6 separate regions of the Homo sapiens genome follow, and all the other regions are linked to region 1. The links come from fine-mapping of genetic effects on gene expression. A gene starts in region 1. Each other region holds a variant in brackets. All regions are shown on one strand. Distances are between the middles of the regions.

Region 1 (4,304 bases):
AAAAAAAAAAAAAAATGGGATCATTGCTGTGAAAGAAGGAAAAGGTAGAACTGCATACAGGGGATTGGGATTCAGGTAAAGTGTTGCAATTTTAGGTAGGGTGGGGAAAGTAGCCTCAGGGAGGGGACATTTGATTGAGACTGAGGTAAGTGAGTGGGCCATGTGGCTAGCAGAGGATAATGTGTTTCAGGCAGAGGGAACATGAGAAGGTCCCAAGGCAGGGGAGTCACTCATAGTAGCTGAGACTGAGGTACAAGGAGGTAGACCATGAGAAGTGTTGTAAGCTGTTGTGAGCACTTCAGTTTTTCCTTTGAGAGAAATGGGGAGCCACTGAAGGATTTTTTGCAGAGGGATATTTTTAGATTCATTCTGGCTGCAGAGTTGACAAAAGTCTCAAAGTGTTATCTCTTAGGGAAGCTTCCACATATTCTGTTATCAGCTCATCAAAAAACAGAATGGAGGGCAGTTGAAGGCACCCATATTGCTGTCACCATTCAGTGAACAGCAGTCTTGAAAATTGATTGTATGAATTGGAGTAATCTTCATACCCAGCTAAATTAGAGTCCAGAGATGAGGGAGAAGAGAAAGCAGTTGGGGCACAAAGTGCCTGCCCAGGAATTATATTGAAAGCCAGCTGCCAAGGTGACCTGCTATAACCTGAAGACCAGTTTCACCCAGTAGCTGCTGAAACGAATTGCTGTAACTCTAAGACTAGTTTTACTTACCACCTTCTCTCACAAATTAGAGCTTGCCTGTTCCTAAAAACTTTGCTTAGGGTCAATGAGCTATCTTTCAAGGTAATACATAACATTTCTCTAATGAAACCTCCAACCATCTCTTTGTTGTTCTGAAGACCACCCCAGTCTGTGTGTATGCCCTGAACTGCAATTCTGTTTTCCCAAATAAAATGATTTAGAGACTCATCTTTGCATTTTTAATTGATCTTGACACAGCCAATTCACATATATCCCTACTGTGCCACATGCCAGGCACCATGCCAAGCACTTTACATACTTTCTCATTTAACCCTTCCCACCTTCTATATAATCACCATTGGTGATGATTTTATTTTATTATTAATATTTTTTGAAATGGAATTTCTCTCGTTGCCCAGGCTGGAGTGCGGCGGCACCATCTCAGCTCACTGCAACCTCTGCCTTCCGGGTTCAAGCGATTCTCCTGCCTCAGCCTCCAGAGTAGCTGGGATTACAGGTGTGTGCCATCACACCCAGCTAATTTTGTATTTTTACTAGAGACAGGGTTTCACCATGTTGGCCAGGCTGGTCTCGAACTCCTGACCTCAGGTGATCCGCCTGCCTCGGCTTCCCAAAGTGTTGGGATCATAGGCATGAGCCACGGCGCCCAGCCAGCACCGATCACTTTTTAACACACTACATCATTGACTTATTTATTTTAGTTTTTATTGGATCTGTCCTCCCACCAGAATGTCAGTTTCACAAGGTTAGGGATCTTTGCTTCGGTAGCTGATGTATCCTGAGTCCATAGAACAGCGCCTGCACACAGTAAGTGCCCAGCCCTGGTGATGATTTTAAAGACAAGAAAAGGCAATTATAAAAGTTAGTGACCGGCCCAAGGTTTAGATGAAGTAAATGGAACTTGTGTAAGGTAACTTGAAGAACTCTGCTTACTCATGTGAACACTACCCAAGGAAGGTTTAGTACCCCAGTACTGAGGAACTAAAGATGGTGGTGGTAAGGGAGTGGGGAGGGGCATCAGTGTTTGAGTTCAACCACCACACGTTTCTTCATTTTTAAGTTCTGTCTAGCCATTATACACACATTTGTCTGCACTATAACTGGACTTCTGCACTGTTGATAGTCCTAAGTTTCCTTCAAAGCTTGGCATCCGTGTGGCTTATTTGGTAGAGATTTGAACTTTCAAAGGGACGATACCCATCATTGGGGATTTCTCTCAAACCCTGGCGGTTTAAAAACCTACTTGGGCACTGCTGCTCAGCCAGCCCGAGGACCAGGGAGGCAAGCACAGAAATAGAAAGCATTTGTAAGTGTTAGTAGCTACTTTAAAGAGTAACTCTGTTCTGTTAGACCTACTAATAACAAATTAGGAGCTTGCATTTAGCACATCTTTTTTTAAAAAAAAAACACGTTCATTTTTCTCCTATGTTATAGTGTTTTACCTGAGAGGCTGAATATACTAAGACAATGGCCAAATCTAATATAAAAATAGACCTCCAATCCACAACCTGCAGCAACCTGCCCAGAAAACCAGTCAGTTACCTACAATAACCAACCCAGGGAGCCTGCCTGCTCTAAATCAGACTTGCACTCCTCTGCCTGCCTTTTTTCTTCTCATTCGGATGGTCTTCATCTATTCCCACATACCTGGGGTGGGGAGGAAATTAGCAAAAGCAAAACCCGGGTCCTGCACGCAGGCAGCTTAAGTACGGCCCTAGGGCTCGGGTCTTCCCTAGGCAAGAACCTCGAGGGCCGGACACGGGAGTGCAACCCAGGCACGCGCCTTCGGATGGCCAGAGTAAATGGTCGCGAGATTTTGCGGGGTAGCAAGGGGCCGGGTGCCCACGGCGGGAGAAACTACACTACTCTGGAGGCGAGCCTAGCCCTTCATCCCGTCGGGTTTCACAAACGAAGCCAGAGCTTCCTGGAGTGAGGGTGGAGCTTCCTGCCCGCGCCCTCTGCGCATGCGCCCGCCCGGCGCCCGCCCGGCGACCTGGAGTTGATGTCACGTCCGGCGGCGGCGGCAGCGGCAGCGGCAGCGGCGCTGAGTTTTGTCTCCCGGGCCGTCTGGGCGCGCGCGGGTGTCCCAGGTACCCCGCCGCCTCCCTCCTTCCCGCAGGACTCGTCCCTCCTGGCCCTGGGCCCCAACGGTGCCCGCCTGCCCGGCGGTCGGTCAGCGCACAGGGCACGGCTTCCTCTGCTTCTCCCGGACCACTTAGTCTCAACCCGGGTGTGTTTGCACTACTAGAGGTGAAGCATCCATCATAGAGAGAATGGGACCTGGGGTCTTGGACCAGGGTGTTTTTACTTTTCCCATCAGGTGGACGCGCATGGGCAGGAGATATTATTTGCAGCATTTCCTCCTAGAGGACGCCTTTGTCATTGTAGTGCAATCTAAGAATGGGTGTCCTTAGACAACAGGGACCGACCAAATCGTCATGCAGCTGTTTGGATGCTTTAAAAAAATAAATCCCCACACTCATTACGCGTTTTATGCTGCTGACTTTTTTATTTTTAAGACATCTGCTCCCGAAAGCTCAGAGCCCTTTAGCATTTCATTTTCTAAACGAATCCTAATCTTTCCTGTGACTGAATCGGTTCAGAGGATATCTTTTCAATAAGGAAGGAAGCCCTCCCCTGCTCACTGGGGACGTCGCAGGGTTTTTAAACCTAAAGATTTACTCTTTTGTGCACAGACGCTGGAAGCATTTGGGTGAGGCAGTGCAGTGCTTTTTGGGAAATGCATCAGATCTTTTCTGTTCTTGAAACGCCAAATCTAACTTGGTCTTTTTTTGGATGAATTACCGCCAGTATTATGAAGGTTACTGTGAAGGAACTTGAGACCACTGAACTTTTTGAGTTCTTGCGGTAGATTTTAAATCGTTTTTCCGTCTTCAACTCTGACTTTGGGATCACTGTCAATTGGCTACATTCTTTACCCTCTTCTAGTTATAATTTAATGCGATTTATTTGTTGTGGGTTTTGAATTTCGATAGCTACACTTAATAGAATTGTGTTTAAAAGAAAGATAAGTGAGGAACTCGTGGCTTTTTACTTTTATATAACTTAATTTTTCATTTTACAAAATGCCCATTTAAAAAAAAGTAGCTAAGCAAAAGAAAGGAAATTAAAATCATCTAGAATCCTACTATCTAAAGATAACCATTGCTAACATTTTGGAATAGAGTGTTAAGTTTTAAAATACATGAAATTTGTAAAAAACAAAAAATGAAATCATAGTGTATACTGTTTGAGTATAATTTGCTTGACGTATCTTGCCTGGCTTCCATTTCACTTATTTTTTTTCTTTGCGCATTTATAATAGCTACAGAATGTTCTATTGTGCTAGGCACTCATAGGTATAGTGGGAAACCTAGTGCATAAACCTTGTGCCATCTATTTTATCAGCTCAGAGAACTTTTAACTTATATCTTGGTTTTTAGCCAAGATGCATAGGTGAGATAGTTGCAGAACTGAGTTAAAGGAAAAATTTAATATTGGGTCCTATGCAAGGGTACATCATATTGAAAAGGTGGAGAACATCATTGAAAATTATTCTAATTCTTGACTCTTTGTTTCTAGACTCAC
Region 2 (5,231 bases), 110 kb after region 1:
ACTGCCTGTTGGGGCACTAGAGAAACAGCTAAAGACTTCTGGGGCCAATCAGGTCATCTTCTTGATGTGTGAACCCTAGCATGTGCTTGAATGCCTAATTTTCCTTAAGACTGAAGGAGGTAGTTTTCCATGAAGCTAGGTGAATCCACCAAAAGAATTGTAAAACATTCTATTAATAAATATCCACTGAATGCCAACTATGCATCAGGAAGAGTCCTGAGAAGAAGACAAATGCCCCGATAAATCCACCCCTTTTGTAACTATGGAGAACCACAGGAGAGCAAGAAAAGAAAGGAGAGTATAGAAGTTAGCTGAAAAGGAGGCTGGGAAGGTTAATATGTGGCCTCAGTTTGGGGAGTCCAGACAGATCTGAGTCCACGTTTTGCCACTTACTCTCTTCTTGACATTGGCCAAATTGTAGGGCTGGTGCATGTGAAGTCGCCTGTTGACACGGCCTCAGATGAGACCCTCACTGGTTATTGACAGACATGGCCTTCCAAGTGGTTTCACAGCAGGCTCAGTTTCAGTCCAGTCTCCAGAGCTGTCGGAGCGGCTTTCTAAAACTCGGATCTAAGAGCCTCACCCATGAGAACTTTGAATGCCTCTCAAGTCTACAAAACTACTGCTCTAGGAGTGATGCAAATGAAAATTCAGTTAACGCATCATGAACTGTACTATTTGAGGCAAAGAACCAAATCAACTCAAATGCAGCATCTTATGACACGTGGCCTGTGCCCTGCTGCTGACAGACACCCAGCAGAACATCAGTCACTGTAGCACGAGTTTTTTTTATAACATAGTTATTACCTACATCTGCTCTAAATACAGGCTCTCATTCCGAAAGGAAGGTGAAAACCATTAGCCTGCAAACAGTAGCTTAAACATAATGTCACGTGCCTGCCACACCCTACATAATTTGGCCCAAATTATTAACCCAGACTCATTCCCACTTCTTTACTTCTGTCTCCAAACAACTGACCCCTTGATCACCTGCAACTATGCATTCAATGCTCTTGGCCTGGAATGTGTTCCCAAACCATCTTCACCTCATTCATTCCTATTTCTCTCTCAATACTTGTCTCAGTCAGTGCCTTGCCTGTGTTTATGGGAGAGAGTCCTCAAGGGTGAAAACCATGATCATCTGTTTGCTTACTATCTTCTCTTCACCACCCAAGGCTGTAGGCTCCTTGTCGGGCAGAAGCCACATCTTCTGTTTGTATCTGGTTCCTATTACTATGCTTAGTGCCTAGTATCGTGCCTGACACAAAGTAGATGCTCAGTAATTGTCTATTGCTTTAGCCGAATGAAATAAATATGGGCTGGAATGACTGACATTTAGATATATTTGTAAGCAGTCAGCAAAACATGTTCAAAAGGCATTAACTAAGGGGTTTTTTTTAATTTTCAGGGAGGCATCTAGTGGTGTGCTGCAGGGATGTGGTGCTCTGGACTTGGTTAGCATCTTTATCAATGGCAATGACAAAAAGGGCATCCTCAATGAATAACTGAAAGAGTTGAAGGAGAGAAGGAAAGAAGGGAGAGTGAATAGAGAGAACATTTACTAAATGTGTAATTTTCACACACAGTGTTGCATTTCACCTTTCCAGCAACCGTATGGGACAGGTGCTGTTCTCCCCATTTTATGAAGCAGGAAATTGAAGCTCTGAAAGGGTAATGAATAGGCCCACAAGGACACAGTTGGTAAAGGAAGGGCTTGAAATTTGAACCTACTGTATTACAAATTCTGCATGCAAAAGTTGAACTGTGATACTTATGAGATGTGTCCTTTGATAAAACACACACCTGACTAAATGTACCCAGGCAAGATGGAGGAAATATCATACCTTGTCAACAACGTGTGTAAAAAATGGGCATCATTATTTATAACTATTTTAAGTCCTACTAACTAGGGTAGGTAATAGTATTCTACCCTGCCATGACCAGGCCACTCCTGGGGCACTGAGTTTAATACTCAGGGCGTTCAGGAGACCCATCTATTCACCGATTCACCTTGGCTGCTTTTGCACCAAAATAGAAGAGTGGAGTAGTTGCAATAGAGCTGAAAATATTTACTATCTATCTGGTTCCTTAAAGAAAAAATTTTCTGTGCCCTGATCTGAACCAGTGTTTTCTAAACCTTGATTATACTCCCACCTCCTTAATCTTTTTTGTGTATGGCATCTTTGAAGTCCATTTACACTATTATTTACTTTGTAATTTTTTAAGTCAGTACGGTATTTTTTAAAAATTTAAACACTATTGTAACCTCATCCTAAGCAAATGATATCTTTGTAATAACAGGTTTTGTATGTAAATCATATAGGTTTATAACATGTTAAGATATATTTTTATATTTGTAATACATATATTTTCAATATTGATATATGCATAAGTACATACAATATTCAATAAAATATTAAAACTAATAAAAGGTTGTCCTAAACTCATTTTCTGTACCACCAATGATGCAGATATCACAGTTTGGTTAAATGTTGCTCTAGACCAGGCTTTTTCGACACAGGCATGACTGACATTTTGGGCCAGATAATTCATTGCTTTGAGGGTTGTCCTGTGCATTGTAGTACACTTAGCAGTACCCCTGGCCTCTGCCCACCAGATGCCAGCAGCACTTCCTCCAACTGTGACAGCCAAAACAATCTTCAGACATTGCCAAATGTCCTCTGGGGGACAGGGGGACAAAAATCATCCCAGATTAGGAGCCACTGGCCTAGAGCATCCAC[A/G]GTGGCTTTGCTGCTTGCTGCATTCTCAGCACTGTACCATGTGAGTCTCTTCAAAAGCCACTTAGGTATTAATTATCAGGAATCTGCAGCATTCGCTGAATGATGAAGAACTGTCCAGATCCTCTCATGTGAGTTCCTGACTTATCAGGTGTGAGGCTGGCATTCTGGGGGCTGCAACAAGATGCTGATGCTCGTGGGGTTCTACTTACTCAGTTACTTGCACTCCTGCCTTCAGTTCCTGAGCTGTTAGTTACCCCATGAATGCAAGAGCTCCAGGCTGACGCTTGAGTGAAACAGGTTTTCTCATTCTTTGCCCAGATCAGTGATTTACTGAATGACACTCAGTGGTCTGAGAGAGTCACATCTTCCAGAGTACCTATCAACAGGAACTGCTGACTCGTGTAATAAAATCTATTCTAGATCACTCACATCAACATTCTTTGGCATTAAGCATTTAGTTGGCTTCAAATTCAAATGGACTTCATTGCACATGGGTTGTGTTCACCCTCCCTCTTCCTAAGGGCTAACTAGCTTCTAAAACCGCAGGTAAACATGAGGAATCTCATCCTAACCTCCGAGATGGAGTCTTTGTTCATTCTTTTTTTTTTTTTGAGATGGAGTCTCACTCTGTCACCCAGGCTGGAGTGCAGTGGCGTGATCTCGGCTCACTGCAACCTCCGCCTCCTGGATTCAAGCAATTCTCTGCCTCAGCCTCCCAGGTGGCTGGGATTACAGGTGCCCACCACCACACCTGGCTAATTATTATATTTTTAGTAGAGGCAGGGTTTCACCATCTTGGCCAGGCTGGTCTTGAATTCCCAACCTTGTGATCCACCTGCCTTGGCCTCCCAAAGTGCTGGGATTAGAGGCGTGAGCCACCGTGCCCGGCCACCTTTGTTCATTCTAACTGGATTATTACAGATGATGATGGAAGTTAACATTTCTAAATGCTCACACTGTCCCACGTGTTGATTCACTTAAGCCTCACAAGGATCCTAAGAGATAGGTACTATTGTGATCTTCCCGTTTTAGATGGGAAAATGCAAAGGCACGTGGCCAAGGTCACACAACCAGAGGGGTGCAGACACTGAATTCAGGCCATCAGACTACAGGACCTGATCTACTGATGTCACTATACCACTGCCTATGTAGAAGTAGTGGTCCCCCAATGGTTGCAAACTTTAATCTTCTTCCAGACCCTCCCCCTCCCCACCCACCCAGTCCACCCTCTATTCTGCTGTCAAACTGGTCTGATCATGTAATTCTCCTAATCAAAAGAGCCAGGAAAGGCCTCATTGTAAACTGGATCAACTCCACCCTCTACAGCATGGATTAAGAGGTGCCTCACGATCTGACCCTCCAACTCCTTTCAATCTCATTTGTTATTATTCCTTACCATCTTCCTAGGGTTCCAGCCATATCAGACCACTTGCCATTGCCCAAGTACCCTGTGGACTTCCCTGCCTCCTCCCTCTGCTCCTGCAGTTGCTCCGCCCCAGAACTCACCCTTCAGATTTTGGCCTAGAGAGAGCATCCTGCCTATCTTTCAGGGATGACTCAAATCTCATTTCATTTGAGCATCCTTTTCTGATTTTTCCAATGGAAATCAGTCCCTTCTCTGCACATCCATAGCCTCTGTTCCCAGCTTTGTTATAGCATCTGCCACATTATGTTATAATTACAGGCTAAGCATTTACCCCCCACGCCAATTAACTGTGAGCCTCTCCAAGACAGAGGCTGATGATCTTCCTGCCTCTACCTCTACATTGCACATGTGTTTGGAACTGATGGATAAGTTGATCAAATATTTGAATTGAAGTCACACACAATCAGAATACACCACATTACATTTTCAATTACTTAATTTGCTAAAATTAGGATCCCTGACCCTTAGATAGAGTCTTGCTGTTGTAGGGAAATTATCTTTGTGAAAGGAGCATTAGGATTTTTGGAAATAGTGCTCTAGAGGTCTTTTTCCTAAGAAGACAACTCAAGGAGCTAAGGCACAGAGATCTATGCAAGCAAGAGCACATTGGTACCGTGTGGCCTTCATTCCAGGACTGTGTCTGCACAGAAGAGGTAACAGAGAGAGCTTATGATATTCCAGTTTCCAATTCTATACTCACAGGCCGTCAGCCCACTTTAATTCAGACTGTCCAAAGTTAGGCTGCTTTGTAAGGTGACGTCATTAAGCTTGATGAGATCTATATGGTTTCCTCTTATACTAACATTCTATAATGAATTTAAACAAAGACCAAAGGCCTTAAATTATTTTCCAAGGGAAAAACAGATGAATTTCTGCTCCCTATCACCTAGGTAGCACCAAATAATGTCATTTTCTTGACAAATGTAATAGGGATGAACATGCAGAAACTGAACAGCATTCCATGATATTCACAAGATGTTGGACAGATAGATGCACCATTTCGGAATATTTCCACACAATGTCTTAAAGATACCAGCGGGTTCCACAGCTCAGGATGAAGGAGC
Region 3 (5,231 bases), 60 kb after region 1:
GCATTAGGTCCCAGGAATGACTGACACGGACTCAGGAGCCTGAGCAGGAACAGAGACATCTGTACCTTTGAAGCTTTTGGTAATTATTTAACAACCTGCAATTATCCGGCATTCCACTTCACCCATTGGGATGAGGTGTGTGAGAAACTGAATCATTGTAGAAGAAATTTTAGGCTTCTCAGACTCCTCTATTGGGATCTAAGGGGTAGAAATGATGCTCTCCTAGTTGAGGAAGTTGCAGTCCCTCCTTGGGTATTAGAAACTGGTGTCTATAGTCGGCAAGATGTTCACATCTTGAAATCTAAAGAGAGATCCTAGAGTGAAAATATCAAGTCAATGAAGTCTCCAAACCTAACTACAGTTGGTCCTCTGTGTCCATGAGTTCCACATTCTTCGGTTCTACCAACTGCTGACGGAAAATATTAAAAAAAAAAACAAACAAAAAACAATAGTCTAAAATTATTGATATAGCATTTATCTTGTATTAGATATAAGTAATTTAGAGATGATTTAAAGGATATGGGAGGATACACATAGTTTTTTGCAAATACTACGCCATTTTATACAAGGGACTTGAGCTTCCTTGGATTTTGGTATCCAAGGGAGTCCTGGAATCAATCTCCCAGAAAGGACTATATTTTTAATTCAAAGCTTGTTGTCATTTGTGTTTTTGTTTATTGTGCTGGGCCAGAATCAATTGCTTCTGTGACATTCCCGTGTCACCACCACACATCCTATATAGGGAATGGGCTTCAATGTCTCATATAGTTTGGATATTTGTCGCTGCCCAAATCTCATGTTGAATGGTAATCCCCATTGCTCGGGGGGAGGCCTGGTGCAAGGTGCTTGGATGGGGAGCCCTCATGGCTTGGTCCTAGCTTCTTGACAGTGAGTTCTTGCAAGATCTGGTCATTTAAAACTTTGTGGCGAAACCCCGTCTCTATTAAAAATACAAAAATTAGCCGGGCATGGTGGCACATGCCTGTAATCCTAGCTACTTGGGAGGCTGAGGCAGGAGAATCGCTTGAACCTGGGAGGTGGAGGTTGCAGTGAGCCGACATTGCGCCACTGCACTCCAGCCTGGGTGACAAAGTGAGACTGTCTCAAAAAAAAAAAAAGAAAAAAAAAAAGCATGTGGCAACTCCCTGCTCACTCTCTCTCTCTCTCTTGCTCCTGCTTTTGCCATGTGATGTGCCTTCTTCTCCTTCACCTTCCTCCATGATTGGAAGTTTCCTGAGGCCTCCCTAGAAGTCAAGCAAATGCCAGGGCCATGCTGCCTGTATAGCCTGCAGAACCATGAGCCAATTAAACCTCTTTTATTTATAAATTACACAGTCTCAGGTATTCCTTTATAGTAATGCAAGAATGGCCTAATACAATGTCAGAGAAAGGATTTTTGGTCATATACCTGCTTATAAAGCCTATAGCACCCTGAAACTGTTGGAAATTGCATTCCAAAGTGTTTTTAAGAGTATAAGAACATTTTCATATTTATTATTCCTTTTCAAAATATCCCTGTGGTATAATATAAAACATATTTATCTTTGACCCAGTTCCTATCACAGAGCACCTAAAACCCCTGGAATTTCTGGGGTGTCAGGAGTGTATTTTGTTACTTGGAATGAGTCCCTTTGGATTACACCAGAGTTTGTGCTAATTAGGTGACTTAGGATGGGGCTGGCCACCAGAAAGAACACATAGTTAGAGGCCTGGAGCTTTCAGCTGGGAAGCAGGAGGGTGGGGGGCTGGAGGTGAAGTTCTATGGAAACTCTTAAACCACAAGATTAGATGAGCTTCCAGGTTGCTGACCATGGGGCTGGGGGGCACTGTTGGGAGGGTGGCACCCAGAGAGTGCACAGAAGCTCTGCCTCTCTCCCCCAATACCTTGCCCTGTCCATCTCTTCATCTGGCTGTTCATCTGTAACCTCTGTAAGAAACTGGTAAAGTAAGTGTTTCCCTGAGTTCTGTGAGCTGTCTTAGCAAATTATTTGAACACAAAGAGGGAGTTGTGAGAACCCCAGTTTACAGCTAGTGGGTCATAATATAGGTGACAACCTATGACTTGGTATTGGCATCTGAAGTGGGGGCAGTTCTGTGGGACTGAGTCCTTAACCTGTGTGATCTGACACTGTCCCAGTAGAAAGGGTCAGAATCAAATTGAATTACAGGATGTCCAGTTCATGTCTGCTGGAGAATTGCTTGGTGTGTGGGGAGCTGCCTCACACAGAAATGTGTGGGGTCACAGAAGTGTGTTAAGTGTGAGAGTAGAGTGAAAAAAAGTTTGTTTTTTTCTTTTTTTGAGACAGAGTTTAGCTTTTTTTGCCCAGGCTGGAGTGCAGTGGTGCGATCTCAGCTCACTGCAACCTCTGCCTCTCGGGTTCAAGCGATTCTCCTGCCTCAGCCTCCTGAGTAGCTGGGATTACAGGTGCGTGCCACCATGCCCCGTGCTAGTTTTTTGTATTTTCAGTAGAGACAGGGTTTCACCATGTTGGCCAGGCTGGTCTTGAACTCCTGACCTTAGGTGATCCACCTGCTTCAGCCTCCCAAAGTGCTGGGATTACAGGCATGAGCCACTGCTCCCAGTCAAAGTTTGTTTTTTCTCTTTGCAATCCCATTAAGACATTTTTCATCCCCATTGACAAGGGCCAGCTGTGTATTTGGAAATTCACAATATTAGGGGGTCTAAATTTGGATGCAGTAGTCTTTGAATTCTTTCTAAAATAGCATTCTCACGCTGCAGGAGGAAAGCGATGATTATGCAACTGAGTGAGCCGGTGTCAGAGGTCTGGAATGCAGCTTACCAACTCCACGTTGAAAGATCTTAACAGCTCTTTCTCACCTGCCAGTTTATTTTCCCTAAAAATACTTGCTGCTTTTATAAGAGATGCGCAGCCACTTTTATGGAATGGTTTGGTAATACCCAGGCTTTAAGTCAAGCTAAGTTTTGGGGGCAGAATGTTTTGAGAAAGCCTTGTAAATGTGGGTGGCGCCTACATTTGGAGATCAGGCCAGTGTTTTGGAGTCTTATGCGAAGTGTCTGCAG[A/G]CTACATTGTTCCCTCATCAGCTTTGACGGTGCCATCCCATTGATCTCATTAGTGAACATGACAACTGGCTCTGTGGTGGCCTCCCCTTTTTTTTATGGGTGGTCATATTTGGAGGGGGCAAAACTGAGTGACTAGACTCTGATCAGAGAAAATTCTGTTATTAACTAGGCTGCTTTATAGTCAAACACTCATAATTTCAAATGAGTTCCTCTGTTTGTGTTTCATTTCTCTGGAAAGCGACTGAGAACATCAAGACTAATCATAGCTATAACATGCAGCTGAGCCCGCCAGAAGGGCCTGTGCTATAGTTAGTTGTTTTGACCTTGAAAATGAGATTTGGGAGGAAAATGATATGGTGGCATTGTAAGGACAAAGCACTAAGTAGCTCAGGAGCTAGGAGGTTTGGGTTCTAGTCCAGGCTCTGCTCTGAACCTATTTACCTCAGACAAGGTATCAGATCCTGCTAGGCCTATGCTCTTTTCTCTGCAAATCATAAATACTAGTTTAATAAGCTAAGGCTGATTTAATGCCTATAATGTAAGGGTATGGTTCCAAGCACTGTACATATGTTAGTTCATTTAATCTTTATCTTAAGATTTTTAACTGAATTCCAGTTGCAAAGTCTCCTTTGCCCTGGGACGTTACATATTCATAGATCTGGGGATGAGGATGTGGACATCTTGTGGAAGGGTGGCCAATATTTTGTCTGCCATAACTATGATACTTTACTAGTCAGAGGTTGCAAACTGATGCCTGGTGCACTGGATTTGACTCTATCAGTTCTCTTTGGCATGCTCAGAGGTTACACTTTTTTCTCTTTTTTGAGACAGAGTCTTGCCCTGTCACCCACGCTGGAGTGCAGTGGCACAATCTCAGCTCACTGCAACCTCCACCTCCCAGGTTCAAGCGATTCTCCTGCCTCAGCTTCCCGAGTAGCTGGGATTACAGGTGTGTGCCACCACGCCCAGCTAATTTTTGTATTTTTAGTAGACATGCGGTTTCACCACGTTGGCCAGGCTAGTCTCAAACTCCTGACCTCAGGTGATCCACCCACCTCGGCCTCCCAGAGTGCTGAGATTACAGGTGTGAGCCACTGAGCCCAGCTGGTTATACTTTTTTTGAGCCTGAATGCCTTTAGACAGAGTGTGTGATCAAATTAGCCCTCTCCCCAGGCCTCACTTATGTAATACAGGTGAGCACGCTCACATCTGTCCTGCTTTTTTTTTTTTTTTTTTTTTTTTTTTTTTTTTTCAGATCATTCCTGGACCCCCGAGGGCCTCTGAGTTTGAGACGCTGGCTGAGATCAAATGATAAGAATTCCAATTTTTGTTTTCCTAAGTCTTTCATCTGCTAATCTACCCAACATGAACCACGGGCCACATGAAGGGCCAGACACATTCTTAAGCGGCTCACAGCCTAGAGGTGCACATCTGTGATTACAATGTGCAAGGTAAAACTGGATCAACAGTTTCCAAGGACTGGCATGTAATAAAATATCCTCAAAACAACAAGCAAGTTGGGCGTGACTTAGACTTTCACTGCCCATGTAGAAGGCACTGTACATTCTTGCAGCATCTCAGTTGGCCAGCAAGAGGTGAGTCAGAAAAAAACCATTCAGCAGCCACATGGAAGTGGGGCTCACTGGGCACAAGGCAAAACTGTGAAGAAGATAAAGTGTCTGTGGTTCTGCATTGACTCTATTCCCTGGAGTCCTCCCCTCTCGAGTTCCTAGAATTATGTTATCACTCTTGCTCTATCTCATTCCTATCAAGACCTGTTTTAGAAATGGGTGCCACAGACTCAGTTACATTCAAATGTAAACCCATTCATTCATTTAGCAAGTTACTTATTAGTGCCAGTGCTGTGTCAGGTTCTACATTAGGTACCAGAGTACAGTGATGAGCAAAACCAGTCCCTGCCCTTCTGGAACAGAGAAGACTGGAAGAGGATGGGGGTAGCCATTAATCAAACAGTCACAGAAATGAGTGCAAAATGTAGCTGGAGTAAGGGCTTCCATGGTGAGGCACTTGGTGCAGGGATCTCTGGATCTGACCAAATCAGGAGGTCAGGAAAGGCTTCCAGGAGGAAGTGACACTGTGCCCAGAGCTCAGGGATGGAAGAAGGATGCTCCTTCTGGGCAGAGAGTAAGGAGAGAAGATTGGTGGGAAGGAGGGCAGGGGCCAGATG
Region 4 (5,231 bases), 47 kb after region 1:
TCAGGCTGGTCTTGAACTCCTGACCTCAAGTGATCTACCCGCCTCGGCCTCCCAAAGTGCTGGGATTACAGGCGTGAGCCACTGTGCCTGGCGCACAGACTACATTTTTAAAAAGGCCCTTAACCCTCCAGCTCCTCATGGTGACCAGACTAGAATCAGAGAGGATTACCAAACAGAGGTTCATTCTGATACCTTGTCTGGTGGACAGAGAAAATGATTTCTCATTGGCATCACTGCTTTTCCTAAAAAACAAACTGAACCTCAGATTATTCTTTTTGTTTTCTAAATCGGCGAGGGGCTAGTGCAGTGAGATATGTTTTGCGACGTCTCTTTGATTTATGCCCTATTTCCCTCCTGGGGTTATGCGTCTACTTTGTCTTCTCTTTTGGTTTGGTGAATCCCTCGTTGGATGCCGGCAGCACCATCCCCTATACGGAAGGGCTGTGATGAGCCTGGAGCCTCTTGCCTTCACCTGTCTACACCTATCCAGTGCTATTCTCTTTCTCTGGGCACAGCCTCCCAGGCTGCTGCTCCTCCTCCTGTAAAATGGGCACAGTATTATGTGCCTTGTGTTTTCTCCGATTCAGCAGCCTTTCCGCAGATTATCTGTGGCCCCTGGGGAAAGGTGTTGGGGTCTCAACACTCCATTATGGGGACTGCGGCTGAGGCCTGGCTGCAGGTCTCCCTACACGCTCCCCAGCGGTGAGCCCAGCGAGACCCAGCAGACGGTCCTGCCTCCCACTCTCCAGCACTCCCCTCTGCTTACTTTGTCTGCAGCGGTGAGGCGGGTCCACGGCTTATCTGCCCTGCGGTCATAGTCCTGAGCGTCAGCCACCTCCACGTAGTCACTGAAGCGGATGAGGATCTTTCTTTCCCGAAGCTCTTCCACCGTGGGCCTTTGACTGAGCTGCAGGGAGGGAGAGAGATGGACCCAGTCAGCCAGAAGGGTTGACCATGGCACTTGGTCCTGTCTGTGAACTTGCAGGTGTGGAAAATAAGGTTCAGTGAGGCGATGGATGCATCGCATAGTGAGTGAGGGGCAGGGGCAGGGGGAGGGCCAGGGTGGGGGGACCCAAGTCTCCTGACTCTTGGGAGTGGGACGTTTCTAGGTCCTAAGAGAGAGCTTTGTTATCCCTTACATACCCTCTAGGCCAAGCTCTTTTTTTTTTTAAACTTAAAAAAAATCTTTTATTATGTAAATTTTCAAAACAAGGAAGGAGACTAATGTAATGAATTTGGTGTATTATCACCAGCTTCAACAATAATCAACTCTTGACTACATCCACATGTAGATTGCTTTGAAACAAATCACAGGCATCATATCATTTTATCTGTGTATATTTCAGTATAGAATATATAAAGATTAGGACTTCAAAGCATATTCACAGTACTGTTTTTACACCTATACAAATCGATAGTAAACAGTCTCTATCTTCATAACATTGCTGAGTCCCAGTCATTACTAGAAGCTTGTCTTTCTGTTTGGCTGTGGGCGCCTGTTGTGGATTTCTTCTTATCTGTCCTACTCCCACCAGGTGACAGGGACATTCTACAATGATTCTGTCTTATTTTGGATTTGTGAATCCACATCTGTGTCACATCGAGTGCTTTCTGCAAGGGGGTTTTGCAGTGCATTTTGTGTGGGTTTTAGATGCAAAAAAGCGTATGTGCAAATGGTATGCAAACTCTGGGGTATGCAGGGATGGGAATCTGCTGGCTGAAGAGGTCAGCCCAAACATTGCTGACGGCCCTCTGCAAGAAGTTCAAGGGGAAGGTCAGTCAACAAATGCGGAGTTGAGTAAGTACAGAAAAAGGCCACATTTATGCCAAGGGAGACTCAGGACCAGCCCTTTGGATGGTGCATGATGAAGGACTGCAGGAATGAGGGATGAAGCAAGTAAAAGGAAGATTCGTATGTATTTTGCCATCTCCCGATATTAGCCATGAAGACCCTTCCTCTACTTTAGCAACATAAGGCTGACATTTCTATTATCTCTTCCTGTCACCAGGTTTATTTCTCCTGGAGCAACACAGTTGCTCTCTTTAAGATGCTGTCAAATGATGTTCAATCAATGCTATTTAAAAGCAGTTTTCCCTTTGAGCCCTAGACTCTGTGTAATTCTATTACTAGAAGACACTATCTCATAGAATCTTGCAACTCAGGCCCGTAAAACAAACACAATGGAGTCCAAACCACCCTGGCAGTTTCGACTCTGCAACAGGCAGCTTCCAGACACCCGTGGCTAGTGCGAGAATGTTCCAACTTGCTCCCACGCTGGCAGAGCACAATTAGAGGATGGCTGGCAGGTATCAAATAGAGTGGTGGCACACCCCGGACAGGGCCAAGGCAGGCCTACAGCTCCCTCTCAGCCAAAGGCAGGAAGCTCTGGGGATCAGGGGCTCAGCCGCCTCTGGTGCCGGCCCCCCTGCCTAGACTGCATGTAGGCCTCCCTTGGCTTTCTTAGGCACGACAACATTCTGGCACCAGTGTGGGCCTGTCGCGGGAACCCACAGGCTTCCCAGGCTGTTATGGCTGTGGTCACCGTAAACAAAAACAGCAGTCATCCTGACTCCAAAACATGTTCTCCACAATGTGAGTGCAGGGAGATTTTGTGCTATAATTAAAATACATAAAGACATGCAACATTTGCCATATTTACTCCAGATAAACAGACTCCTACTCAGAATCCTGTCTGTGTTCCTCAGGACTTGCTGGGTTTACCTCAAGGGGCCA[GACAA/A]AGTGTTATTTTCTTTTCTTCATTTTTCTTTTTTTAGACGGAGTCTCACTCTGTTGCCCAGGCTGGAGTTCAATGGTGCAATGATCTCGGCTCACTGCAACCTCCGCCTCTTGGGTGCAAGTAACTCTCCTGCCTCAGCCTCCCGAGTAGCTGGGATTACAGGTATGCGCCACCTTGTCCGGCTAATTTTTGTATTTTTAATAGAGATAGGGTTTCGCCATATTGCCCAGACTGCTCTCGAACTCCTGATCTCAAATGATCCGCCGTTCTCAGCCTCCCAAAGTGCTGGGATTACAGATATGAGCCACCGAGCCCGGCCCAAAGGGTTATTTTCTGAGTGCACCCATGATGTGAGAAAAGTTGTTAAGCCCTGACTTTCAAATTTCTCTTCCTGGAAACTGACCTGGATTTTACTAATGTCCTATCTATGGCAGAGTCTGGAGTGAACCGAAGACTAAGCATAAATGCTGCAGGTCAGGGGCTGTTTCTTATGCCTGAACATCGCGGGGCCTTGGACACCGTCTTTCCAAATCAAGACAGCATAGAGCACAAGTGCTCAGAGGGAATGAGCGAGGATGCAGCTGGCTGCTGCCTCTCAGAGTCACAGTTGGTGCACGGACCCCAGCACTAACAAACGGCCACCAGGACGCTCCTCTGTGTGCATGGGCTCATGTCCCTGACCACGAAAGGCTCAGAAGACGCACCTTTGGCCTGGTGCTGGCTGTAGCCTTCGGGGCATCTGGAACCTGAAGTCCTTCCTTGAATGCTGCAAAAATAATCTTTGCAGCCAAAGTCAGGCCCGCCTCGGCCTCCCAAAGTGCTGGGATTACAGGCGTGAGCCACTGCGCCTGGCCGCAGGCATGTCTTTTTTAAAAAGACAAAGCATGTAATTTTTATATTAGTCTCAGTTTGGTCAGAGAAAATGACTGGTCTGTTGCTATCAGCCTCAGTTACTACGCTTTATTTTTTATTTTTCTTACTAGTGCATTACAGTTAAATAGAATTTTATTGAAGAAGTTATTGGGCTGAAGGCAGATCACTGTAAAGCAGCCCCCATCACTGGCATCTGGTCTCAGTGTGATAAATGCTCAAGAGGAGAAGAACCTTCACAGGGCCAGGAAGTGATGATGTAGGTTCCCTACCTGCCGGAAGGCGCCACATCTCTGCCCGCAAAAGCAGATATGGAAGTTGCCCCTCTGTTCTCCAGTCTCTCTCTTAGAAGCAGTTATCCCCTCTCAAGCTCCTTATTTCTAACCCCCCCAGCCAGTCCCAGGGGAGGGCAAATGCTAAAATTCCAAGGCCATTTCCCTGGGAGAAGAAAGGAGAGGTGAGCAGGAACAGAGAGGCAATTATTTGATTGTGGAGACCCGCAAAACCTATGAACTATTTGGGGTCCCCATCCCTAGTGTCACCTACCCTAGGGAGATGGGTGTGGAAAGGAAGACTCTTTACTCGCTCATTACCAAATCATGCAGTTAGTCAAGTTCTCCGCAAAATCATATCAACTTTGTTAAGAGATAGGAATTAAATAAATGTCTAAGTATTTCTCTGTGACCGTCTTTTAGCAAGCAACCTTAAAACTGGGTGAATTTTGGGGATCCAGCAACCAATTCTGAAAAATTTGATGAAAATCTGATTTAAACAACTTTTTTTTTTTCTAAGTGTCTAGACCTTTCTGTATCAGAAATGAAAGTTTATCACAGTGTCTTTTTCGAGCCCCAGTCATTTCAAGGACACGATGAGAAAAAGCTAATGCATCTCTCCTGCTCTTCTCACTACTCAAGCTCAGGAAAAACTGCACCCTGCATCCAAAGAGTGGGTGGGCTTAAGGATGTAAAGGGTCCAACCTTGACGGGTGGGACAGCGACTGGCTGGTGAAGTCACTTAGCTCTTGCTCTAGTCTCCACCAGGGTGACCCCAGCCAGTCGTCTGGCCATTCAGGCACTTGTTTGTCCAGCTCTTGCTAATTGGGTTGGCATTTGGCTTGTCACCAGGTATTTGGGATGCTCGCAGGGAAAGTGTGGAGAAATACAAACCATCACCTTAATAATTGGTATGATATTTCAGGATCTCTGAATTTCTTCCTTTGTGTGATATTTCTGGAGAGAAAAATCCACTAATAAACCTTTTTAAAATTAATATTAATGGGCCTCTTAACTGTAGCTAAGATATGAGAGTATCTTTCTCTCAAGATGGTCACTGTAGGAGGCTGATTAAAAACACTTTGACTTCGTCAGACAGAAGGGAGTATTGTATCTTGCATGTCATCAATTAATTAAACTTTTCAGCATCATCCAAGAATAGCCTTAACAATGCGTTTATTATTAAAGAGGACACTCATGTGGAATGAGATGCATGCGAGGCTACAGTGCATTGCCAAACCATCTATTTTTGGGGTTAAGACTATATTAAAATTCCAGTTTTATGACTTTAAGCTATGTGCTTCTCAAACATCTGCTTTAAATTTGTCAGTACTTTCGTAATTTAGCCTAA
Region 5 (5,231 bases), 40 kb after region 1:
AGAAGGTTATGCAATGCAGTTCTTTGCTTTATACATCAAATACTCAGGCTTCTCAAGAACGGAGATAGAGGCCAGGCACGGTGGCTCACACCTGTAATCTCAGCATTTTGGGAGGCCGAGGAGGGTGGATCGCCTGAGGCCAGGAGTTTGAGACCAGCCTGGCCAACATGGTGAAACCCTGTTTCTACTAAAAATAAAATGCAAAAAAAAAAAAAAAAAAAATAGCCAGGTGTGGTGGTGCACACCTCTAGTCACAGCTACCCGGGAGGCTGAGGCAGTAGAATCACTTGAACCAGGGAGGCGGAGGTTGCAGTGAGCCAAGATCTCCAGCCTTCCCAGATCGTTAAAAGGACAGTTGACATTTTAGATATTCTTATAAAAATGTTGAGGAAGGCCGGACGCAGTGGCTCACGCCTGTGATCCCAGCACTTTGGGAGGCTGAGGTGGGCGGATAATGAGGTCAAGACCAAGACCATCCTGACAAACATGGTGAAACCCCATCTCTACTAAAAATACAAAAATTAGCCAGGCATGGTGGCGCGTGCCTGTAATACCAGCTACTTGGGAGGCTGAGGCAGGAGAATCTCTTGAACCCAGGAGGCGGAGGTTGCAGTGAGCCAGGATTGCGCCACTGCACTCCAGCCTGGCGACGGAGCAAGACTCAGTCTCAAAAAAAAAAAAAAGTTGAGGAAAAAAATCCTAGTACACAAAAGTCTTCTAGAAAGTTAATGTATGTGCTACAATACTTCCTTCCCCCAATAATACCAGAGGAGACATGCGGTTGTCCCGTATGTCCACTCACTCTCACTATGTATTTTGCAGATGAGCTGACCTCTCCCATTCCTGCAACCTCCCTTTCCCAGTCAAAGCATTTTTGGTGGTTTCTGCTGCTGGTTGATAACAAAACACACAAGAGTCAAGAATTTTTTTTTTTTTTTTTTTACTTTTTTTTGGTTTGTTTTTAAAGAAACTGCATACATCATCAGAGACAAACAATAATTTAAATACCATGCAGTTTCTGTATGTACAAAACCTAGGCCACAGAGATCCAGTTTAATTTGTATTCTCTATTTACATCGTTTTCCTCATACAGCCATCATCTGTTAAATTAGAACCTGGGAGATTAGGGGATTGACGGTCACCACACTCACTCCTATACAAAGACAAACTATGTACAGACACCCAGGAAGCAACTGGAAAATGCAACCGGTCTGGGGATTAACAGACAGATAGGGAGAAAAAGTCATTTAAGGTGACCTTTGCCCACCGGCTGTGCACAGGGAGAGCCTGAAATTCCATTCATCAAAGCAACACACCACGATTTTCATTCGGCAAATAAAAATACATGTTCATAAGCGGGAGAAAAATAAACCCAGAGCTTTTCATCACATGTACCGTCACATTGTTTGGTTTCTCTAATCTGACATAAAGGCTAAAGTTTTAAAAGTTTTACAGTGCTTTGAGGGCCTTTAGAGATGAATATATCAGCCATTTAAAAAAAGCTAGTTGGCTGATGGCGGTCTCTTCTGTCACTGATTGATTGGGGGCGGGGGCAGGGTTGGGCAATGTCTAATCTTTAGAAGGAAGCATTTGATTTGAGACATTTCACATTTTTCCTCTCACGCTAATCCAAATGAAAAAAATGCTCAACTGGGAATTTACACACATAAAATAAACTTTGACTTGCCAGCTACAGCTTTTTCAAAAAAGAGATGCATTTTAAGTCATCTAGCTCACCTTTTTATTTTTTCCCTTAATTAATGTCAAATTGTCATCTTGGAAAGTAACACAAATTGCTGCAGTTGTCATGACATTGTAGTGAAAAAAAAAAAAAAAGAAAATTGAATAGGTCTCTAGAAAGACCTTAAGGTTTTAAGAAAGGAAAGAGACAGCAGAAGGCCCATCCTGCAGGCCACAGAGGTTGCTGAGCCTGTGTAAGAGCCACTTAAAACGGGCTTGAAATAGCCCATCCTGAAGGCGCAGGACCTGTCAATGGCAGGGGAGGTGCACCCCTCAGTCTGAGCAAGTGACTGCTGGAAAGGAGGCCCTGCAGGAAGAGCAGTGGAAATTGTGTTCAATATCTTCCATGCACAAAGTGGACTGCAACATGAGGGCACTTTGGGCGGAAACCCTGGGCTGTCTGCTGGCTGGCTGCAGGGAGATCCGCTTGGGCCTTATATCCCCAGGGAATCTGAAGGGCCAAGAACTAAGGCCAGCAGAGAAGCCATGGGCCTATCATGGGAGGAGTCCGGTCAATGGAATGAATTTCCTTAGGACTCGCTCCTGGCCAGGGAGGACCATCATGCCAGGGCACCGCGTGTGCCAGGAGCCCAGCTGCAGTTAGAGGAAGTTCAGACTCAAAGCCTGGCCGGCAGGCAAGTCCACCTGGAACACGTGTCCGCCCGCCCGCCGTAGAGAAGTTCAACGAAAGAGCCCTACATCTTTCGTCATACCATTTGCACATTCAAACGTCAGTAAGCCTTTCGGGAAGACTGTGTTTACAGCCACACTAAAATCCCGATCACATTTTCCCTGAACAATACCTCTCCCCACGGCAGGAACTATTCAGATTCAAGAGTTAAAAAAAAAAAAAAAAAATAGGATCTAGTGATGGCATCCTCCTTGGGTCGGGCAGAGGCGTGCTGGCTCCAGGTGGCAAGGCAAAGCTGCAGCTGGAGGCACCGCCCAAAGAGCTGCCCTGAACTCTCCCCAGCAGTTGTTTGGCTCCTGGGTTAGTGCCTAGATGGGAGCCGTTCATGCCTGCAAAAAAATGCAATGGCCTCGTTGACGGGTGTGCATCCTAAGAGTAACCTGCTCCCACAGGGTTTGTGGTGGGGAGACGACTGGTTAACTTTTTGGAAAGGCCAAGCTGGCGTCTTTCTAAATGGCATGTGTGGTGGAGAGTTCCACCACCTAGAAAGACTGGAGTAACGATGGAGTCACTCCAGAAGGTGAGAGAGCTCTGCAACTGAGGGCCTGCGAGCTCTGTTATGAAGGAAATCGAAAGCTGCAATGGGCCTCGTTAGGATGCTGTTAGGGTTTAGGAGGGTCCTGGCCTCAT[C/T]GCACACCCTATCCTGGGTGTCCCAGTCAGAGACACACCCACAGTCACGCTCCCTGGCATCATGAGGGTAGAGGGAGGAGCTCTCTGGATCAACTGGAGCAGGAAGGGGCACTGTGGACAGGTGTGGCTGGTGTTGGCCTGATTCTGGCACATGCCCAACTCTGGGGCTCCTTCACAGAAACTCTTCAGTGCAAAAAAAAAAAAAAAAAAAAAAAAAAAAAAAAAAAAGAGAAGGCCATGGAGTGGTTCCAAGTCCCTCAGTGGCTGGAAAGCCAGTCCTACAGGAGTGGTTTCTGGCCTGCATGCACTGGTCCTATACACAGAAGCTAAGAACTCCCAAGCCATATAATCAGCTTCAAGGCGCACAGAGAAAATAAATGTCAGCCAAGCAGTTTCTGACCCCACAGGATTCAATAGGGTCCTCCCACTCAGACTTATAAACAGCACAGGAGTACCTTAGCAATGGCTGTGTGTGTGCGTGGGTCACTCATGACACTGGACACTCTGGACACAGTTGGGTTGATTATTTGAACTGAGCATATGACATCTTTCCCCTTCTAAACCAGAGCTTCCTGAAAGGCAGCTCAGCTCAGGCAGAGGGAGCAGGATGGGTGCTCAGTGCCAGCCTTCGTAGCCAAGAGGCAGCCAGACTCCCCCAGAAATGGGCCCTTCCCTTTTGTTCATTGTGTGGGTGGTGGCTGAAAGGAGGGAAAAGCCAGGGGCAACTGAGAAGTGTTCACTCCTTCTTGGCATCAACTTCAAAGGGCCCCCAAACCAAATGTCATGTCTGGAGCCAGTACATTTGGCCAAGTGTAGAAGTCCAACCAGATCATTAGCTTTGCACAGTACCCCCAAAACAAACCCACCCCTTCAGCTTTCTTTGGACTCAGATGACAGACACTTGTGAGGAAGAGGTTTGCTGGAGACTTCATGAAGGTAGTGCCTGCTGGGCCTGGCTGGAGAGGACAAGGACCGTTCCACCTGCCAGACAGTCTTCAGTCAGGGCCCTGCTGGTGCCCTTGGCACTGCCGGGGGTTGGGATGCATTTTGGTGTCAGAAGTGGGACCAGCAGCTCGGACCGCCGAGCCATCACTTTTGCGTTTTCACACATAAAATCCTGATTGTGTTTCCTTGATTTTTCTTCTTTTTAAAAAAAAGGCAGTTCAGAAGATTTACATCGTAATGGGGAAGTGAATAAATACCAGCACTTATGGTTCTTATAAATTTATGTTTTGAAGACAGCATAGCACTCAAGAGGAATTCGACTGTTAAGGTCGGTGAAACCTAAGGAAACAAACAATTACATCAAGACCAAGGGGCTGCCAAAGGTGCAGGATTCAACAGTCCAATCTCCCATCTTCAGGGAGGTTCTTGACCGTGAGAGGGAGGTGCGAGCTTCCCACCGTCATCCCCACAGGAGTACCACTGAACACACACCTGGCTTTGAAAGTTTCATCTGGGGCAGCCCTGGTGGCCTCCACCTCCTGCCATCAGCCTGGATCCAGCAGCAAGGTGCAGAACCCAATCTGTGTCTCTGAGTCTCTAGACTAAATACTTGCTATATCCTATTTCTCTAAATGTTCCCCCCAAAAGAAAGTCAGAATTAAATCAATGGCTCTGTTGCTAACTAGCAATGCAACCTTATATAATCCTCTTAATCACTCCATGCCTCGGTTTTCCCAAATATCATCATGATGCTGGACTGTCAGGGAGAATGTCAGGGAATAACAGAAGTGGTCCACTTTGGAAGTCCCGTGTGGATGTGGTATTTTGTTCAGGTTTGGCCTCTGCTGACTGGTTGCAAATTGGCAACAATCTTTTCTCCTTGACCTAAGTTTTCACAAAAACCCACCTTGGGGTCGTTGGTAGTCTGGTGCTTATCAGACCTTTAGTTTAAATGAGTGAAACTCAGACTTTGCAGAAAGTTGGTTTTAGCCCGGGCCATCTGTGTTCCACTTCCTCGTTTCAGTAACCTAAAGTGGAACCGCATGCCTGCCTTCCTACTATCTTCCCTCTCATGGCACCCTCCAACCCACTCATGTCCCACAAGTGGGAGAGCTTTATTTGGAGATAAATATTGCAACTTGAGGGAAAAAAAGGAAAAAAAAAACCCTTAATACTAACCTTGTTAAGTGTCTACTCAATTCATGAACTTCCATCTCAGTGCTTT
Region 6 (5,231 bases), 78 kb after region 1:
TTAGGCTCTGCTGAGTCTAAAGCAGGTCTTTTGCTGAGATTCAGATGGTGGTGGACATCCAGATTTCCTTTTCTTAACTGAAGGCTTACCCTAGGTATCACTGTACTTATTGTCCTTACTTCTCTAAGCAGTGTTGCTTCTGATGATTACAGAACTGTGGGGCAAGGACAAAGAGTGATCAAATAAAGAGAGGAAGTTCTGGTGTTTGCTATAGAGAGGGACTGTCACAGGCAATATTGTGGTTAGGTTGATATGCACAGCCCAGACAACAGAAAAATGTCATCATTCATTCATTTATTCACAAAGTACCATGGTTCTAGATTTCTCCAATGCCTGTGCTTAGTTGGGCCTCAATAAACAACACATGCACCCACCAATCATTTTTCAAAGGTAAGCAAGGGATGAAACGTTAAAAATAGGCAACAAGGTGCCTCCTTCCATGTCTTTCTCTGACTGCAACACGTGGATTCCTCCTAGGAGCTACAGAACATGTGCAGCTCATGTGTTTTAAATGTCACCCGCAAAGGGCCAATCTCTCATTTTGGGGCGATCATACTTCCCAAGGAGAGGGCTGAGGATAGAGGGTGGGGAAGAAGCCAGGAGACGGGTGGCAGGAATCCCGATCCTTTCCCTCCTCATTCAGTGGGGCCACAGCTATTTTCCTTCCAGCTGTCTCCCAAAGTCTCTTCTGAACTTGTTTCTGGAAACAATAACAACTCAAGTTCAGATGAGATCTCATGCTATTTAGAAACCTGGAAACGAAAACACAAAAACCCCAAGGAATCTCAGATGCTCAAGTGGAGGGGGGTTTTGGCTGCAATATTTTGCTAAGTTTTCTATAATTCTCCTTTAATAAAAGTCTCATTTTCCCTACCTTTCCTGACCCATGGTCCATAAATTTAAACATAAAGCTTCATTTTTAAGCCAATAGCCTTGTAGCCCAAAGGAATGGTATGAATATAGATACTCTCATTAATCTCTAAGTGTTTTCCTGCGGCCGATACTCTTTCACAAAATACATTTTTCTGCAGATGTGACACAACAACAAAGAGACCCCTCTCCTCTCCCCCAAAACTTTTTTTTTTTTTAATAACAGCAGCATGGCAGATTTTAAGAATGTCTAACCAGTGTAGATTTGTATTTTTGCATTCTTTGAAAATTGGTTAATTATAATGAGATCAGGATAGATGGAATTTTAATAATGGAAATAATGGAATGAGTTATTTATCCAGGAAAGGATCTATTTATATGGGAAACGGAAAGAAGGAAAAGAATGGAAAATGGAGAGTCAAATGGAAGTTTCAAATAGACTTTATCCTTTTCTTTTTTAGACTTTTTTCTTTTCTTTCTTTCCTTTTTCTTTTTTTTTTTTTTTTGAGACAGGATCTTGCTCCGTTGCTCAGGCTGGACTGCAGTGGCACGATCTTGATTCACTGCAACCTCTGACTCCCAGGCACCTGGCTAATTTTTTTTTTCTATTTTTTTTTTTTTGTAAAGGCAGGGGTTTGCCATGTTGCTCAGGCTGGTCTAAGCGATCTGCCCTGGGCTCAGGCGATCTGCCCACCTCAGCCTCCCAAAGTGCTGGGATTATGGGCATAAGTCACCGTGCCTCCTGGCCTTTTCTTTCTTTCTTTCTTTTTTTTTTTTTTAAGGCAGGATCTTGTTCTGTTGTTCAGGCTGGAGTACAGTGGTGCAATCACAGCTCACTGTAGCCTCAAACTGCTGAGCTCAAGTGATCCTCCCACTTCAGCCTCCCCAGTAGCTGGGACTATAGGTGTGTGCCACCATGCCCAGCTAATTTTTAAATTTTTGTAGAGATGGGGATCTTGCTATGTTGCTCAGGCTGGTCTTGAACTCCTGGCCTCAAGCAATCCTCCTGCCTCAGCCTCTCAATCCCCTTATTATATATATAAATTTAAATGATTTTTCACTAATTCTTCAGCTAATCTACTCAATGGCTTGAGAGAGAGCCCTTGAGAGCGCAGATAACTGCTTTCAAATAGGAGACTCAAAGAGAGGCTGAATTTAGAGCTGGTATCTGCCATAGGACTGTCAGAGCTCAGCCTGGCACACATTAGTCCGTGTTCTCTTCCCTTCCTTATGGTTTTTTGTTTTATTTTCTCACATTCCGGTCACATCAAATACACTCAACACACACATGCACCATGAATACATCCCCACCCTCCCCTATATGAGGCCAGACAGACATCAGAGACCACAGCGCCCCCAGCACATGGGCAGGCAGTTTCTTGATGCTGAAATGCCCCAGCTGGAGGCCGGTGAGAACCTGGACAGATCCTATTTGCAGCCCTGCACCCGTGACCGTAATGTCCCTCTCAGGGAGCACCAGACAAACCAACTCCTGCAGTGAAGATAAACACCTGCCTCCATCCTGAGGGAACGACTGATTGTGTAACGTTCCCCTCAGTCACAGGAGCCATCTCCCCCTTCTAGGAGAGCGCCCGCCTATGGCCAGCATCCCACCCGATGTGTCTCTAACAAGAGGTCACTGGGAGGCTGAGTGTGCCTGGCAGGCAGAATCCTACCCACAGCAGACAGGGACACACAGCCACT[C/T]GGGGCCCTGAAAGCTGCCCTTCTCAGGTGGCTGCCACTCATGGGAGAGGCATGTGGACGATGCACAGGGACCACTGTCAGTAGCTCCTTTCACTGATCAGAAGATTGATTGTGTGTGTGTGTGTGTGTAAAATGGATATGTTTTCTTCATACAATAAGTGTCATGTAGAGGATTTGTCAGCCTCTCTTCACCACAGTGTTACACACATCCCAAGCATATTCCACGGTTTTGCAATTTGCCAGAGCTCTTGCCACATCTCTTCCTATCTGTGTAACACTCCATTTGTGCACCACCTGTCTTGAGGATAGACCTGTCTTGCGCCCAGACCTGTCTTGCGCCCAAGGAGTCATGTTTTAGTATCTGGCTCTTACTCGTTGGCGACCCTCCTTCCAGCCCCCACCTTTTCCTGCAGGACTTGGAATCTAGCTTCAGCTGCAAAAACAGGAACATACTTCTCACACCTGCTGATATTTATTTTCAAGCTAAGCCTGCATGGCATGGCTGTGGCCTTCCTTTCTTAAGGACAACATACATTTTCTGCTTACACAGATTCCTTCTCTCAGTCTGTCTGCACAGCCAGCCCCTTCTTATCTGGCCGGCAGCTGAGCTGAGCTGCTTTCAATGATACCTGGTTGTCCTTGAAGTAGCTTTTCTAACTGCTCAGGTAATAAATCAAGTTTGAAAAACTGGACCGTATTCCCAGCATAATCTGTATGCTATATGATGCTTCACAGGCGGATCTGGACTAAGAAGTAAAGGTAAATGGGATTATTTTGATGATTAGAGTAATGAGCACAAAGGAAATCCCTATGTGTGTGAGGATGAATTTAGTTTCTTTCTCTAATGGAGATATTTCGGGCACATGCACTTTCTAAATAGATCTAGGATCAGCACTGTGAGAGGAAGGCCACATTCTCTAATGTCCTCAGTCTAGGTCCTTAAATGTCTCATTTCTTTTTTCTTCAAAGGGCCAGATAGTAAATACTTTGGGTTTGTGGGCCATACAGTTTCTGTTGCAGCTACTCAACTCTGCCATTATGGTGTGTAAGCAGCCACAGAGAGCAGGTAAATGAATGAGTGTAACTGTGTTCCAATAAAGCTTTATTGACAAAGACAGAGAGTGGGGTGGGTTCAGTCTGTGGGCCACAACTGGTGGGCCCCTACCATGGAGTGTCACCAATGTCTGAAAACTATTTCCTTGAAGCATCAGCCAGTGGAGCAGAACCACATAAATGGTCATAACTTACAAGACGGAAATTATTTTGGTTTCCCAATGAAAAATGAAATAGGTGATTCTTTAGTCACCATACTTTTTTTTTTTTTTTTTTTTTGAGACGGAGTTTTCTCTGTTGCCCAGGCTGGAGTGCAGTGGTGCAATCTTGGCTCACTGCAACCTCCGCCTCCCAGGTTCAAGTGATTCTCCTGCCTCAGCCTCCTGAGTAGCTGGGATTACAGGCGCCTGCCACCACATCCGGCTAATTTTTGTAGTTTTAGTAGACATGAGGTTTCACCATGTTAGCCAGGCTGGTCTTGAACTCCTGACCTTAGGTGATCCACCTGCCTTGGCCTCCCAAAGTGCTGGGATTACAGGCATGAGCCACCACGCCCGGCTTAATCACCACACATTTTAGTGTAGTTCATACCCCTGACCAGAAAAATGTAATCTTCTGGGGCCTTTAACACACTAGACCAGCTGTCCCCAACCTTTTTGGCACCAGGGACTGGTTTCATGGAAGACAATTTTTCTATGGATGGGGGTTTGGGGGCAAGGTGGTTTCAGGGGTTGGGGTGATTCCACCTCAGATCATCAGGCGTAAGTTAGAGTCTCATAAGGAACGTGAAACCGAGATCCCTCACATGCACAGTTCTGAGAATCTAATGCCGCCACTGATCTGGCAGGAGGCAGGGCTCAGGCAGTAATGCTCACTCCCGCCACTCATCTCCTGCTGTGGGGCCTGTTTCCTAACAGGCCACAGACTGATACCAGTCCACAGCCTGGGGGTTTGGGCACCCCTACACGAGCATGGCCAAAAGGCTGCAAAGAATAATGCTGATAAGCCACGAACAGTTAATCAAACCTTTAAAAATGGTACAGTTAGGAACTGTGGCTGGCAAGGGAGGACGGAAGACCTAACTTCTCCTCCTCTCGTTCTTCATCATCCTTATCACTCTCAATAAAATATCTAGAAGACATTATAGCTTATGCATTGGCTTTGCTTAGTTGGCACGCGATTTTGATGTTTGCAGAGTGCTTTTTATGCCAACTTTCTCTCCGCTGTGGCTTCCAGTCTTCTGTCCCTTGCTTGTGCTTTAGCCCACACATGCAGATTAGATTTTTGGTAGCTCTGCAGTCAGATCAGAGCTGCAGGGATGTGGCTGCAGCTGTGAGTTCCTCCACTTACGGCAGCTAAAGGCATGCTTCTCCCAATATGAGTTATTGCCCCGTCTACTAATTGGCCTTACAATGATGATTTATCTCCTCTAACAGGGTCTCTCACTTTGGGGCTTTGCGATCACCTCAACATGAGGATAACCGTGATCACACACAAGAGACCAGAATTTCCCCCTATATCAAGTTTATTTGCCAAACAGGCAGTTTGAAAGATTTTATAGAAATGACGAGTTTTCAAGTTCAAAACATGTTCCATAGAATTTT

The links. PIP is the estimated chance that this variant, and not a neighbour inherited with it, causes the effect.
Region 2: its variant is the best candidate, but not a certain one, in a credible set for the expression of TBC1D7 in whole blood (INTERVAL, PIP 0.74).
Region 3: its variant is the best candidate, but not a certain one, in a credible set for the expression of TBC1D7 in cerebellar hemisphere (GTEx, PIP 0.60).
Region 4: its variant is the best candidate, but not a certain one, in a credible set for the expression of TBC1D7 in nasal epithelium (TOPMed, PIP 0.51).
Region 5: its variant is the best candidate, but not a certain one, in a credible set for the expression of TBC1D7 in hippocampus (GTEx, PIP 0.62).
Region 6: its variant is the best candidate, but not a certain one, in a credible set for the expression of TBC1D7 in whole blood (TOPMed, PIP 0.57).

Annotation. Positions count from the first base shown.
Region 1 is chr6:13,326,958-13,331,261 of GRCh38, reverse strand. It overlaps TBC1D7 (TBC1 domain family member 7), which reads left to right and starts at 2,725. Exons shown (of 8, transcript NM_016495.6): 1 at 2,725-2,966. TBC1D7-LOC100130357 (TBC1D7-LOC100130357 readthrough) reads left to right here and starts at 2,725. Exons shown (of 9, transcript NM_001318809.2): 1 at 2,725-2,806. It overlaps LOC124901261 (a long non-coding RNA gene), which reads right to left and starts at 2,647. Exons shown (of 2, transcript XR_007059457.1): 1 at 2,364-2,647; 2 at 1,405-1,537. RefSeq lists an enhancer at 2,380-2,886 and a silencer at 2,520-2,909.
Region 2 is chr6:13,220,156-13,225,386 of GRCh38, reverse strand. The region is part of intron 8 of PHACTR1 (phosphatase and actin regulator 1); the gene reads right to left. It overlaps LOC105374933 (a long non-coding RNA gene), which reads left to right. Exons shown (of 4, transcript XR_007059456.1): 4 at 1,409-2,426. Among named protein-coding and RNA genes, the nearest start is that of TBC1D7, 110 kb to the left of the region's middle. The variant A/G (reference allele first, on the strand shown) is at 2,742.
Region 3 is chr6:13,266,903-13,272,133 of GRCh38, reverse strand. The region is part of intron 10 of PHACTR1 (phosphatase and actin regulator 1); the gene reads right to left. TBC1D7-LOC100130357 (TBC1D7-LOC100130357 readthrough) reads left to right here. Exons shown (of 9, transcript NM_001318809.2): 9 at 4,299-5,231. Among named protein-coding and RNA genes, the nearest start is that of TBC1D7, 59 kb to the left of the region's middle. The variant A/G (reference allele first, on the strand shown) is at 3,044.
Region 4 is chr6:13,279,098-13,284,328 of GRCh38, reverse strand. PHACTR1 (phosphatase and actin regulator 1) reads right to left here. Exons shown (of 15, transcript NM_030948.6): 13 at 767-907. The region is part of intron 8 of TBC1D7-LOC100130357 (TBC1D7-LOC100130357 readthrough); the gene reads left to right. It overlaps LOC100130357 (a long non-coding RNA gene), which reads left to right. Exons shown (of 5, transcript NR_160971.1): 4 at 2,776-2,900; 5 at 3,173-5,172. Among named protein-coding and RNA genes, the nearest start is that of TBC1D7, 47 kb to the left of the region's middle. The variant GACAA/A (reference allele first, on the strand shown) is at 2,735.
Region 5 is chr6:13,286,177-13,291,407 of GRCh38, reverse strand. It overlaps PHACTR1 (phosphatase and actin regulator 1), which reads right to left. Exons shown (of 15, transcript NM_030948.6): 14 at 5,186-5,231; 15 at 3,571-4,345. The coding sequence ends at 4,330. All of the region lies in intron 8 of TBC1D7-LOC100130357 (TBC1D7-LOC100130357 readthrough), which reads left to right. The region is part of intron 3 of LOC100130357 (a long non-coding RNA gene); the gene reads left to right. Among named protein-coding and RNA genes, the nearest start is that of TBC1D7, 40 kb to the left of the region's middle. The variant C/T (reference allele first, on the strand shown) is at 3,062.
Region 6 is chr6:13,248,473-13,253,703 of GRCh38, reverse strand. All of the region lies in intron 10 of PHACTR1 (phosphatase and actin regulator 1), which reads right to left. Among named protein-coding and RNA genes, the nearest start is that of TBC1D7, 77 kb to the left of the region's middle. The variant C/T (reference allele first, on the strand shown) is at 2,575.